Regions from separate parts of the Homo sapiens genome. Here region 1 is linked to region 2. The links come from fine-mapping of genetic effects on gene expression. A gene starts in region 2. The other region holds a variant in brackets. All regions are shown on one strand. Distances are from middle to middle. Region 1 overlaps ZNF268 (zinc finger protein 268). Region 2 holds the start of ZNF605 (zinc finger protein 605).

Region 1 (5,377 bases), 250 kb after region 2:
ACAGCTTTTGTTACTGTCATTTTCTTAACTTTGTTCACTTGTCTTTTATTTTGAGCTATTGGGTGTGCTTTTAATACATTCCTTGTTTGATTGCATTAGCCATTGTGTATCTTTTGCATACAGCTTACTAAATCAGATGGCTTCAGAAATGGGTGGTAGAGGAGTAGGCAGAAACTTGCAAGGATATGTGGATATTTGGAAATGGTTGTTTCCCAAGACAGGATGGAAGTCTTTTAAGCAAGAAACTTGGCCCATGCTATGAAGTCATGAAATGAATTGTTGGCATCATGTGCTCACTGAGGCTTTGGGGAAATGGATAAGTTGTCATTGAAAAATTTTAAACAGAATTCTGGAGTGGTCAAGAGGGGAATGCTTTTGATACCCATGTATAACATGGAGAATAATGATCTTAAAACTTCAATTTAAGATTATGTGTCAGTGATACTACTTAGTTACATGTAGCTATAGAGTCACAGTGGTGAAAAACTCTGCCAGTTGCTTACTCACAAAGTTAGTTTTCTTCACTACCTCATCAGGTTTGTTATGTGAGTGGGCATTAATCTGGGAAGAGTGGGACCCTGCCAGTTAGATTAGGGCTATCTTGGAGGAATATGCGGATTCAATACTGCAAATATTTCTGAAACACCTTCTGCTTTGTACTCTATTAGATACCCAAAGAAATTTTCATCCTTGAAGCGGAGGAATTTAATGATACCTGAATGCCTAACTGTTGTATTCTGCTTATACAGAATCCAATCTCAAGATACTTGGGGTGAAGAATGATGATTCACAGAAGGGAAGGGACATCTTACATAAACAAATAATCGCAGATACTTGCTAAAGTGTATCCCCCAATCTGGGAAATACTGTAAAGGTGTATATTATTATTGATGTACCAAAGAAGACAGAATAAATTCATAAGAGAAAGTTTATATTCAGTTTACTACTACCTAGGGTTAGATTTTAGTTTGTTGTTTTTTCAGATGCAAATCTACATGCAGCCTTGCCTGGTAGAAGCCAGAAGTGTTGACAGTATTGAGGACAGCACTCACATACTGTGGGAAAGAATAATACTTGATTAGGACTTATTATTTAATGAAATGAAAATTTTACAAAACAGAAATTGAGTTACTGGTTTGTAAATCTATCTAGTCCTTCTACCCCAGCCCCAGAAAAGAAAGACATTCCAGAGACTTTTCAGGAATAGTTATTATAAGGAAAATCCAAGGAAAAATAACCCCAATATTTTACAACTTCCCCATCAAATAGAAATTTAGGAGAAAAAATGACTTGCAAACCATATTTGTGAACATAGGTTTAAAAATCCATATTTGTGAACATAGGTTTAAAAATCCATATTTGTGAACATAGGTTTAAAAATTCTAAATGGAATTATAGCAAACCAATGTATAGCTAACAAGAAAGTCATGATATTAGGTTTAACAGACTATTAGTGGATCCAGCATCCTTTGTTCATTACCAGCAGAATCACTATTATTTATAATGGCAGTATGCCCACTTAAAAAGAGATATATGGGGCCAGGCACGGTGGCTCACACCTATAATCCCAGCACTTCAGGAGGCTGAGATGGTGGATCACCTGAGGTCAGGAGTTTGAGACCAGCCTGGCCAACATGGTGAAACCCCTCTCTACTAAAAATACAAAAAAATAGCAGGGCATGGTAACTGACACCTATAATCCCAGCTACTTGGGAGGCTGGGACGGGAGAATCACTTGAATCTAGGAGGCGGAAGTTGCAGTGAGCTGAGATCGTACCACTGTACTCCACCCTGGGTGACAGAACTAGACCCTGTCTCAAAAAACAGAAGAGTATGTTTGGAAGATTTAATATTAGAAAATATTTTAATTAACTACCAGATAAAACTCATAAGGATTATCTCAGTATATGCTGATAAATCACTTGATGGAATTTAACACCCATAGATGACACTAAAATACTATTAAGTTGGGAATTAAAATTAACTCCTGTAACTTGGTAGGGAATATATGTTCTGAAAACACAAATGTCATACTTAATGATAAAATAGTAGAAAGATTCCTTTAAAGTAAAATTAGCCAGGTGCAGTGGCTCATCCATGTAATACCAGCACTTGGGAAGGCTGAGGCTGGAGGATTGCTGGAACCCAGGAGTTCGAGACAAGCCTGACCAATATAGGGAGACCCTGTCTGTACAAAAACTTTTTAAAAAGATTAGCCAGGTGTGGTCAGGCGCCGTGGCTCATGCCTGTAATCCCAGCACTTTGGGAGGCCGAGGTGGGCAGATCACTTGAGGTCAGGATTTCAAGACCAGTGTGGCTAACATGGTGAAACCCCGTCTCTACTAAAAATACAAAAGTCAGCCAGGTGTGGTGGCACGTGCCTGTAATCCCATCTACTCGGGAGGCTGAGGCAGAAGAATTGCTTGAACCTAGGAGGTGGCAGTTGCAGTGAGCCAAGATTGCACCACTGCACTCCAGGCTGGGCGACAGAACAAGCCTCCATCTCAAAAAAAAGATCAGCCAGGTGTAGTGGCAAGTGCCGGTAGTCCCACCTACTGAGGAGGCTGAGGCAGGAGGTTAGCTTGAGTCCAGTAGTTCAAGGCTACAGTGAGCTATGATCATGCCCCTGCACTCCATCCTGGGCAACAAAGTGAGACCCTGTCTGTAAAAAACAAAGCAAAATTACAAGAATGCGCATCACTTTTATGAAATGAGTAACATCTAGCCAAGGTGTGAAAACAAGGAATGTGAGGAATTAGGGATGGGTGCAGAAACAACTGCCATGAATTGGAGATGTGATCGTGTAATTAGGAAACCCAAAATAAACCACAAACAAATGTTTGGAACTGCCAGTAGAGTAGCAAGTATGCAGTTGTCAGTATTCATGGAGGACCCCCC[CG/C]CAACCACAGATACTCCCTGTGGATGCTCAAGCTCCTTATATGGCATAGTATTTGCATTTTTTTTTTTTTTTTTGAGATGGAGTCTCGCTGTATTGCCAGGCTGGAGTGCAGTGGTGTGTTCTTGGCTCACTGCAACCTCTGCCTCCTGGGTTCAAGCAATTCTCCTGCCTCAGCCTCCCTAGTAGCTGGAATTACAGGCACACGCCACCACGCCCAGCTAATTTTTGTGTTTTTAGTAGAGATGGGGTTTCACCATGTTGGCCAGGCTGGTCTTGAACTCCTGACCTCGTGATCCACCCTCAGCCTCCCAAAGTGCTGGGATTACAGGTGTGAGCCACTGGTCTGTATTGATTTTTCTTAATTCTTTGCTAAAGGGCCAGGTAGAGTTATTTATTTCTTGTAGAGATGGGGTTTTACCATGTTTTCCAGTCTGGTTTCAAACTCCTGGGCTCAAGCAGTCCACCTGCCTTGGCCTCCCAAAGTGCTAGGATTACAGGTGTGAGCCAAGCACCCAGCCATAAATCTTAAATAAATTCTGATTTTGGTATAAATGATATATTTAAATTTAAATGAAGTTGCAAGTTTTAACATGTCTACTCTTTAATTTTCAACATTGTTTCAACTACTTGTTAGAAACACAGGCCATTAAAACATTAATAAAAAGGCTGGGCATGGTGGCTCATGCCTGTAATCTCAGCATTTTGTGAGGCTGAGGCAGGTGGATGACTTGAGGTCAGGAGTTCGAGACCAGCCTGGTGAAACCCCGTCTCTACTAAAAATACAAAAATTGGCCAGCTGTGGTGGCATGCATCTATAATCCAAGCTACTCAGGAGAATTGCTTGAACTGGAGAGGCGGAGGTTGCAGTGAGCTGAGATTGTGCCATTGCACTCCAGCCCGGGCAGCAGAGTGAGACTCCTTCAAAAAAAATTAATAAAAGCAAGCACATAGGGTGCACATTTGCCCTTCCCTCTTGGGATCCAGGGTGATCCCACAGGTGCTGTTCATCCCCAACTTTGACCTGGACTGTTGCAGTGTTTTGTCGCAGTGTTTCTCCCTTTTTTTGTACTGGGATTTCTCCCCAGAAACAAACCCATATGTATAAAAAGTAGTTGGGCTTGCTATAAAGATGACTAGTGGAAACCTCAATAGAGGTACGATTTCCTAAAATAAATCTTGTTCAGATATTACAGGGCAAAGTGAAACAGCAAAGCTCCCTCCTCAGCACTCAGGGTGCAGGCCTCACTTTTCCTCATCTTTTCCTCCTGTGGCCTCCATGTATCCCAAAGGTGAGATGACATCGCCCCAGATTGGTCCGGAAAGTGCACTGGTCGTCACTGTGGGTGTACCCTACAGGAGTCTTCAGATATGGAAGCTCTGGATCTCACTGTGATGTATCCCCCTAGGGGGTCCCCAGGTTGTGAGGAAAAGGAAGCTTTAGTCCTCACTGTGGTTGCATCCCCCACCACGGGTCAGTCCTGAGGAGGATACTCTGGTCATCACTGTGATCTACCTCCCAGGGGTCCCCAGGTTGGTCCTGAGGAGAAGGAAGCTCAGAACCTCACTGTGGATTTGCCCCACTAGGGTCCCTAGGTCAGTCCTGAAGAGAAACAAGCTCCAGTCTTCACTGTGGTTGTGCCCCACAGTGGTCCTCAGGTTGGCCAGTGGAGAAGGAAGCTCTGGTTCTCAGTGTGATGCATCCCCCAGGTTGGTCCTGAGATGAGGTAAATTCTGGTCATCACTGTGAAGTGCCCTCGGGGGTCTCCGGGTCCTGAGTAGAAGCAAGGTCTGTTTGTCACTGTGGATTCCCCCCTGCCAAGGGTCCCCAGGTCAGTCCTGAGGAGAAGGCAGCTCAGTCTTTACTGTGATGCAGCCTCTAGTGATCCCCAGGTCCTGAGTAGAAGGAAGGCCTGGTCCTCTGTGGATTCAACCCAGAGGTCTGTGAGCAGAATGCAGGTACTGCAAGCAGGCTAGACAAGGTGTGTGCTTGCACCCCTTCCTTACTACCTAGGCACAGTGTTGGATGGTCAGTGCTTCCTGTTTTGTGATGGCCATGTGCCCCCTCTTGCAGTCCCAGTGAACCCCTGAAATTCAATCTTACGATTTTCCATGCCATAATTTTGGAAAACGAAACTGAAATAGAGTCCATCATTCCATGCCTTAATTGGAATGGATAGAGATAATAAAAGGCAAAGTAGATGGCCATAGACAAAAGTCAAGTGATTTCCTATATATTTGAAATAATGTATAGCAATAATTGGAATTTGTAATGAATAAAATCATTCAAAAAAATCTGAAAAAGTGTTTGTATGCAAAATATAAAAAAAAAACCCTAAAATTGAACAAGAAGACAACCCAATTAAAAATGGGGACAGATCCAAATACATACTTTCCAAAGATATACAGATGGTGGCCAGGCACGGTGGCTCACGCCTGTAATCCCAGCACTTTGGGAGGCCGAGGCGGGCAGATCACCTG
Region 2 (5,377 bases):
CTGACACCCACAGGGTCCCCAATTTCTCACCCTCACCCACCCGCACACCCATCACAGACACTTGCACGCATACTTGGCATTGATCCCAAGCCCTCCGATCATTCCTCCTCACAGACCTCACTGCCCACCCCATCAGTCATTCAGTCATCTCTGGTACCCGGTCACTAATACAAACAAGCTCCTTCTCACCTGGTTCCAACACCCTCAAATAACAAAGCCAATGCCAGGGCACGAGCCAATAAAACTGTCCCCCATTCAACGATGTACACTGGACCCTTTATTCCTAATCCTCCACAGGCCCCCAGACACTTACCATTCCTACGTCACACCATAGACCTCACAGGCCAGGCAGAGTTATCCCTACAGGCCCAACTGATGACTGGACCTCAGTGACTCCCACAGGGCTTTTAAATACAGATGCCAGACACCATAATCACCAGCACCCCCAAAGCCCCACTTAAGAATCACCACAGACTGAAACCCCAAACTCTGAGTCCCAAAGGATCCCCACAGAACTCAGATACTCCTGCAGATGAGCTGGGGAGGGGAGGAGAAGGGTGGGGAGCGGGGGAGAAGGGGCTTCAGTCACTCCTGCAGGTGAGGTGGGGAGGGGATGAGAAGGATGGGGGAGGAGAAGGGTAGGGAGGGGAGGAGAAGGGTGGGGAGGGGAGGAGAAGGGGCTTCTGTCCTGGGACGAACACACTGGTCTCCATTCACTCACTTCATCAGGTGCCCAAGTCAGGCGCTCACAGAGCCCCTCCCCTGTAACTGACATTCTGAGGCTTGCGCCACAGACCCCCTAAATTAGACCCCAGTCACTCAATGCCCAGGGATCCCTAATCCCTTATCCCCGGGGCCCCCAAGCATTCGCCCCCATGACACCCCATTCTCTAATCCACTCCATGCTGGAGCATTCACTGACATTCCCACAGGCCCTCCCAAACACCACCTGGAAAGGGATTGTGGGGCTCTGCACAAATGCCGATCCCGCAGGCCCCTCCAATGACGCCAAGTATGACCCCCGTTGTCCACGCACTCACAACTTGCAACAGGTCCACCATTAACTTACATCCAGACTCCCTTGTCACAAATACACAGCGCCATTCCTAATGCTTCCATCATAAGATCCCCAAACACAAGCACAGAAACAAACCCCAGCCACTCGCCAGCATAGGCCACCCCATACTCGCCTCCGCTATTGGAGACAGGGGTTGAAAGAGCAACCACTGTTATTCAGCTGTCAAATAAAACATACAACTGGACAGAGCAAAGAAAGACGGTTCCAAAGGGTTATTGGAAGTGGGGAAAAAAAGACGCGGAAGAGGGTTGGGAAGGGGAAGGAGAACGGGCTTCTGGGAAGAACCGTGAAGCCACGAGACTCACGTGCATCTCTGCAAGGCAAAAAGGGTTTTTCTTTCACAGAGAGGTGTGAACAAGGTTAGCAAAGACCAGGCCTGGCCAAGCGAGGTGGAAGTGCGGGCGACCAGACAGCAGAGCGGGGAAAGCTTGACCCTGAGCCAGCCTGTTCTCAGGCGAGGCTGCGTGTTGGCTCAGGCTGGGGATGGGCCAAAGCTCAAGAAAATGGGGAAAGGAAAGAAGCTTAGCTAAAGTTTGCTTAAGGAGCATTTTGCTCCGACCGCTCGGTGGAGTTCAGCCAGTCACCGATGAGGCAAGCGACGGCAACGTGGCAGGTCTGTGTGAACAAGGGGCATCCTGGAGGCTGACCAAAGTCATATAGGGAACGGGAGATCTTTGCAGTGAGCCATTTGCTGGAACCCAAAAGGGTGGGAAATTCCTCAACCTTCGCTGTTTTCCAGGAGCACAGGGCTCTGGTGAAATCCAACACTGTCACAGCCGGCAGGCTTTCCAGTGAATGGAACCCACACAAGCAAGCCCCTAAGCCCTCCAACGCAGGCCCCCGCAGAAGCCTCATCATTCACCCCGCTGGCCTCCAATGCTCACCCAAAGGCATCCAAATCATTCATCAGCAGAGTCCTAATCGCTGCAGACAAATCCTCCACACGGCCTCCCAGGGGCCCCTCTCCCCTGGGGCCAAGGGCAACCTCGCGTCCCCTTGCCCCGCCCGTGCTGCACCCCAAGTCTACAGCGACCTCCATAGGCCCCCAGTGAATCGCCCAGCTGACCCCAAATCTCCCCCGACACCCACATTCAGCGCCCCGCCGCCGCCCGCCCTACAGCCCCCACCCCACCCTCTGCCTCCCACCCCCGCGCGCCCCCAGAGCCCCCGCCTGAGGCCCGCCTTCCGCGCATGCGCCCAGGCCGGTCCGCAGGCCTTTCTCGCCCCAGCCGGCAGCCAGCTCGTTCGCGCTGGGGTCACCGCGAGCCGGTCCGCAGCGGGGTCACCGCGATCCCCGGCGCAGACACAGAGGCCGCCCCCAGCCCCGCCGCCTCGTGGTCCCGCCCCCGCTGCACGCTCCCTTACCCCTCGGACCTCGCAGGGCCGCGGCGGACACGGCCCGATCGGGGACGTGAACGCGCAGAACTACATTTCCCAGCGTCCCGCTCGCGCTGGAACTACACTTCCCGGGGGGCTCGGCGGTGCACCCGCCGGGGTCGCGGATTGGAGGTTTCCGGTTGGAAAAGCCCCTTGGCGGCTAACTGGGGAGGACTGGAAGAAATCTAGGATGGAGCCAGCACTGCTGGCCCAACATGTCTGTGAGAGAACCTAAAGGCGCCTCCAGGAGGAAGCGTCTGCATCTTTTCCTTGTTTTTTTTTTTTTTTTTTTTGGAGGCAGGGTCTCGCTCTGTCACCCAGTGGGGAGTGCAGTGGTGCCATGAACGCTCATTGCAGCCTCAGGCTGGTCTCCGACTCCTGGGTTCAAATGATCCTCCTGCCCCAGCCTCCCAAAATGCTGGAATTACAGGCATGAGTCACTGCGTCCGGCTGCTTTTCCATTTTTCATCGTAGCTGTAAGTAATATCGGTAAATGTTAGTGTTACGTGCGTCCGTATAGGAGACCACCTGAGCAGGCTAAGTGTGAGCAACACGCCTGTTTATTCACTTGGGTGCAAGTGGGCTGAGTCTGAGAAAGGAGTCAGCGGAGGGTGGTGGGCTTGTCATTGGTTCTTATAGCTTTGGGATAGGATAGGCGGTGGAGTCAGCAGCAATTTTTTTTTTTTTTTTTTTTTTTGAGACAGAGTCTCACTCTGTCGCCGAGGCTGGAGTGCAGTGGCGCGATCTCGGCTCACTGCAAGCTCCGCCTCCCGGGTTCACGCCATTCTCCTGCCTCATCCTCCTGAGTAGCTGGGACTACAGGCACCCGCCACCACGCCCGGCTAATTTTTTTGTATTTTTAGTAGAGACGGGGTTTCACTGTGTTAGCCAGGATGGTCTTGATCTCCTGACCTCGTGATCCGCCCTCCTCGGCCTCCCAAAGTGCTGGGATTACGGGCGTGAGCCACCGCGCCCGGCCTCAGCAGCAATTTTTTGCGGGCAGGGGAGGATGTTACAAAGTACATTCACAAGGGCGGGGAGGGTGTATTGTCACAAGGGCGGAGAGGAATGTTACAAAGTACATTCACAAGGACCGGGAATATTACAAAGTACATTATCACAAGGGTGGGGGAATGTCACGATGGCTTGACCATGGTGCGGCCAGCTCAGAGGACCTTACATTTAGTACATCCAATCCAGCAGTATTGACAAAAGGAATGAAAATAGATGATAGGGTTGGGCGCGGTGGCTCACGGCTGTAATCCCAGCACTTTGGGAGGCTGAGGTGGGCGGATCACCAGGTCAGGAGATTGAGACCATCCTGGCCAACACGGTGAAACCCCGTCTCTACTAAAAATACAGAACATTAGCTGGGCGTGGTGGTGGGCGCCTGTAATCCCATCTACTCGGGAGGCTGAGGCAGGAGAATCACTTGAACTCGGGAGGCGGGGGTTGCGGTGAGCCATCATGCCGCTGCACTCTAGCCTGGCAACAGAGTGAGACCTCATCTCAAGAAAAAAAAAAGGAAAAATAAATGAGATGAGGACATTACAGGGAAATAAAATATATTTATGGATATATAAAGCAGTGGCTTGTCCCTGTAGTCCCAACTACTGGAGGCTGAGGCAGGAGGATTGCCTGAGCCTGGGAGGTTGAGGCTGCAGTGAGCTATGATGGCAACACTGCACTCCAGCCTGGGCCACAGAGGGAGACACCTTCTCTTAAAAATATTTTTTGGCCAGGCCAGGCGCGGTGGCTCACACCTGTAATCCCAGCACTTTGGGAGGCTAAGGCGGGCGGATCACCTGAGGTCAGGAGTTCGAGACCAGCCTGACCAACATGGTGAAACCCCATCTGTACTAAAAATATAAAAATTAGCCAGGTGTGGTGGCTCATGCCTGTAATGGCTCATACCTGTAATCCCACCTACTCAGGAGGTGGAGGCATGAGAATTGCTTGAACCCAGGAGGCAGAGGTTGCAGTGAGCTGAGATCTCACCACTGCACTCCACCCTGGGAGACAGAGTGAGATTCTGTCTAAAAAAAAAAAAAAAGAAAAAGAAAAACTGTAAAAGCATATTAGTTTTTTAAAATAAAAATGGGGAGAAACAGGAAACACACTCACAATTGGCAATTTAAAAAATTGAAATGGCCATAAAGACCAAATTAAAGTATATATGAAATAATATTTTGCTCAATTCTATATTAGTAAATTTGGAGCCTGTGAGAGATGGAGTTTTGCTCTTGTCGCCCAGGCTGGAGTGCAGTGGCACAATATCGGCTCACTGCAGCCTCCGCCTCCTGAGTTCAAGTGATTCTCCTGCCTCAGCCTCCCGAGTAGCTGGGATTGCAGGCGTGCGCCACCACGCCCGGCTAATTTTTGTATTTTTAGTAGAGACGTGGTTTCACCATGTTGGTCAGGCTGATCTTGATCTCTTAACCTCGTGATCCGCCTGCCTCGGCCTCCCGAAGTGCTGGGATTACAGGCGTGAGCCACTGCGCCCAGCCACTCCCAGCTACTTTTTGTATTTTTAGTAGAGATGGGTTTCACCATGTTGGCAAGGCTGGTCTCAAACTCCTGACCTCTGGTGATCCATGCGTCTCGGACTCCCAAAGTGCTGGGATTACAGACCTGAGCCACCGTACCCAGCCCACATTGCCCTGCTTCTAACTGAGATTCAACTTTATTTAAGCAAACCAATTCCATGCTCAACAGAGCTAAAATTAAAATTCTGCTTTAAGGTAGTTTTGTTTTTGTTCTCAGAAAATTTTGCTGTTCACAGATTTATGATTTTCACTTTTCTCCGAGGTTAAGCGTGTCATTTATTAAATGACTTACTAGAATTTATACGCCTTTTTTTTTTTTTTTTTTTTGAGATGGAGTCTTGCTCTGTCACCCAGGCTGGAGTGCAGTGGCGCGATC

The links.
Region 1: its variant is fine-mapped to the expression of ZNF605 in whole blood (Lepik 2017, PIP 0.95).

The regions. Positions count from the first base shown.
Region 1 is chr12:133,205,990-133,211,366 of GRCh38, forward strand. ZNF268 (zinc finger protein 268) reads left to right here. Exons shown (of 6, transcript NM_003415.3): 6 at 1-5,377. Among named protein-coding and RNA genes, the nearest start is that of ZNF268, 27 kb to the left of the region's middle. The variant CG/C (reference allele first, on the strand shown) is at 2,899.
Region 2 is chr12:132,953,800-132,959,176 of GRCh38, forward strand. ZNF605 (zinc finger protein 605) reads right to left here and starts at 2,507. Exons shown (of 5, transcript NM_183238.4): 1 at 2,444-2,507. It overlaps LOC124903064 (a long non-coding RNA gene), which reads left to right and starts at 2,750. Exons shown (of 2, transcript XR_007063552.1): 1 at 2,750-2,931. RefSeq lists enhancers at 1,225-2,055, 1,484-1,778, 2,056-2,884, 2,638-2,717 and a silencer at 2,138-2,477.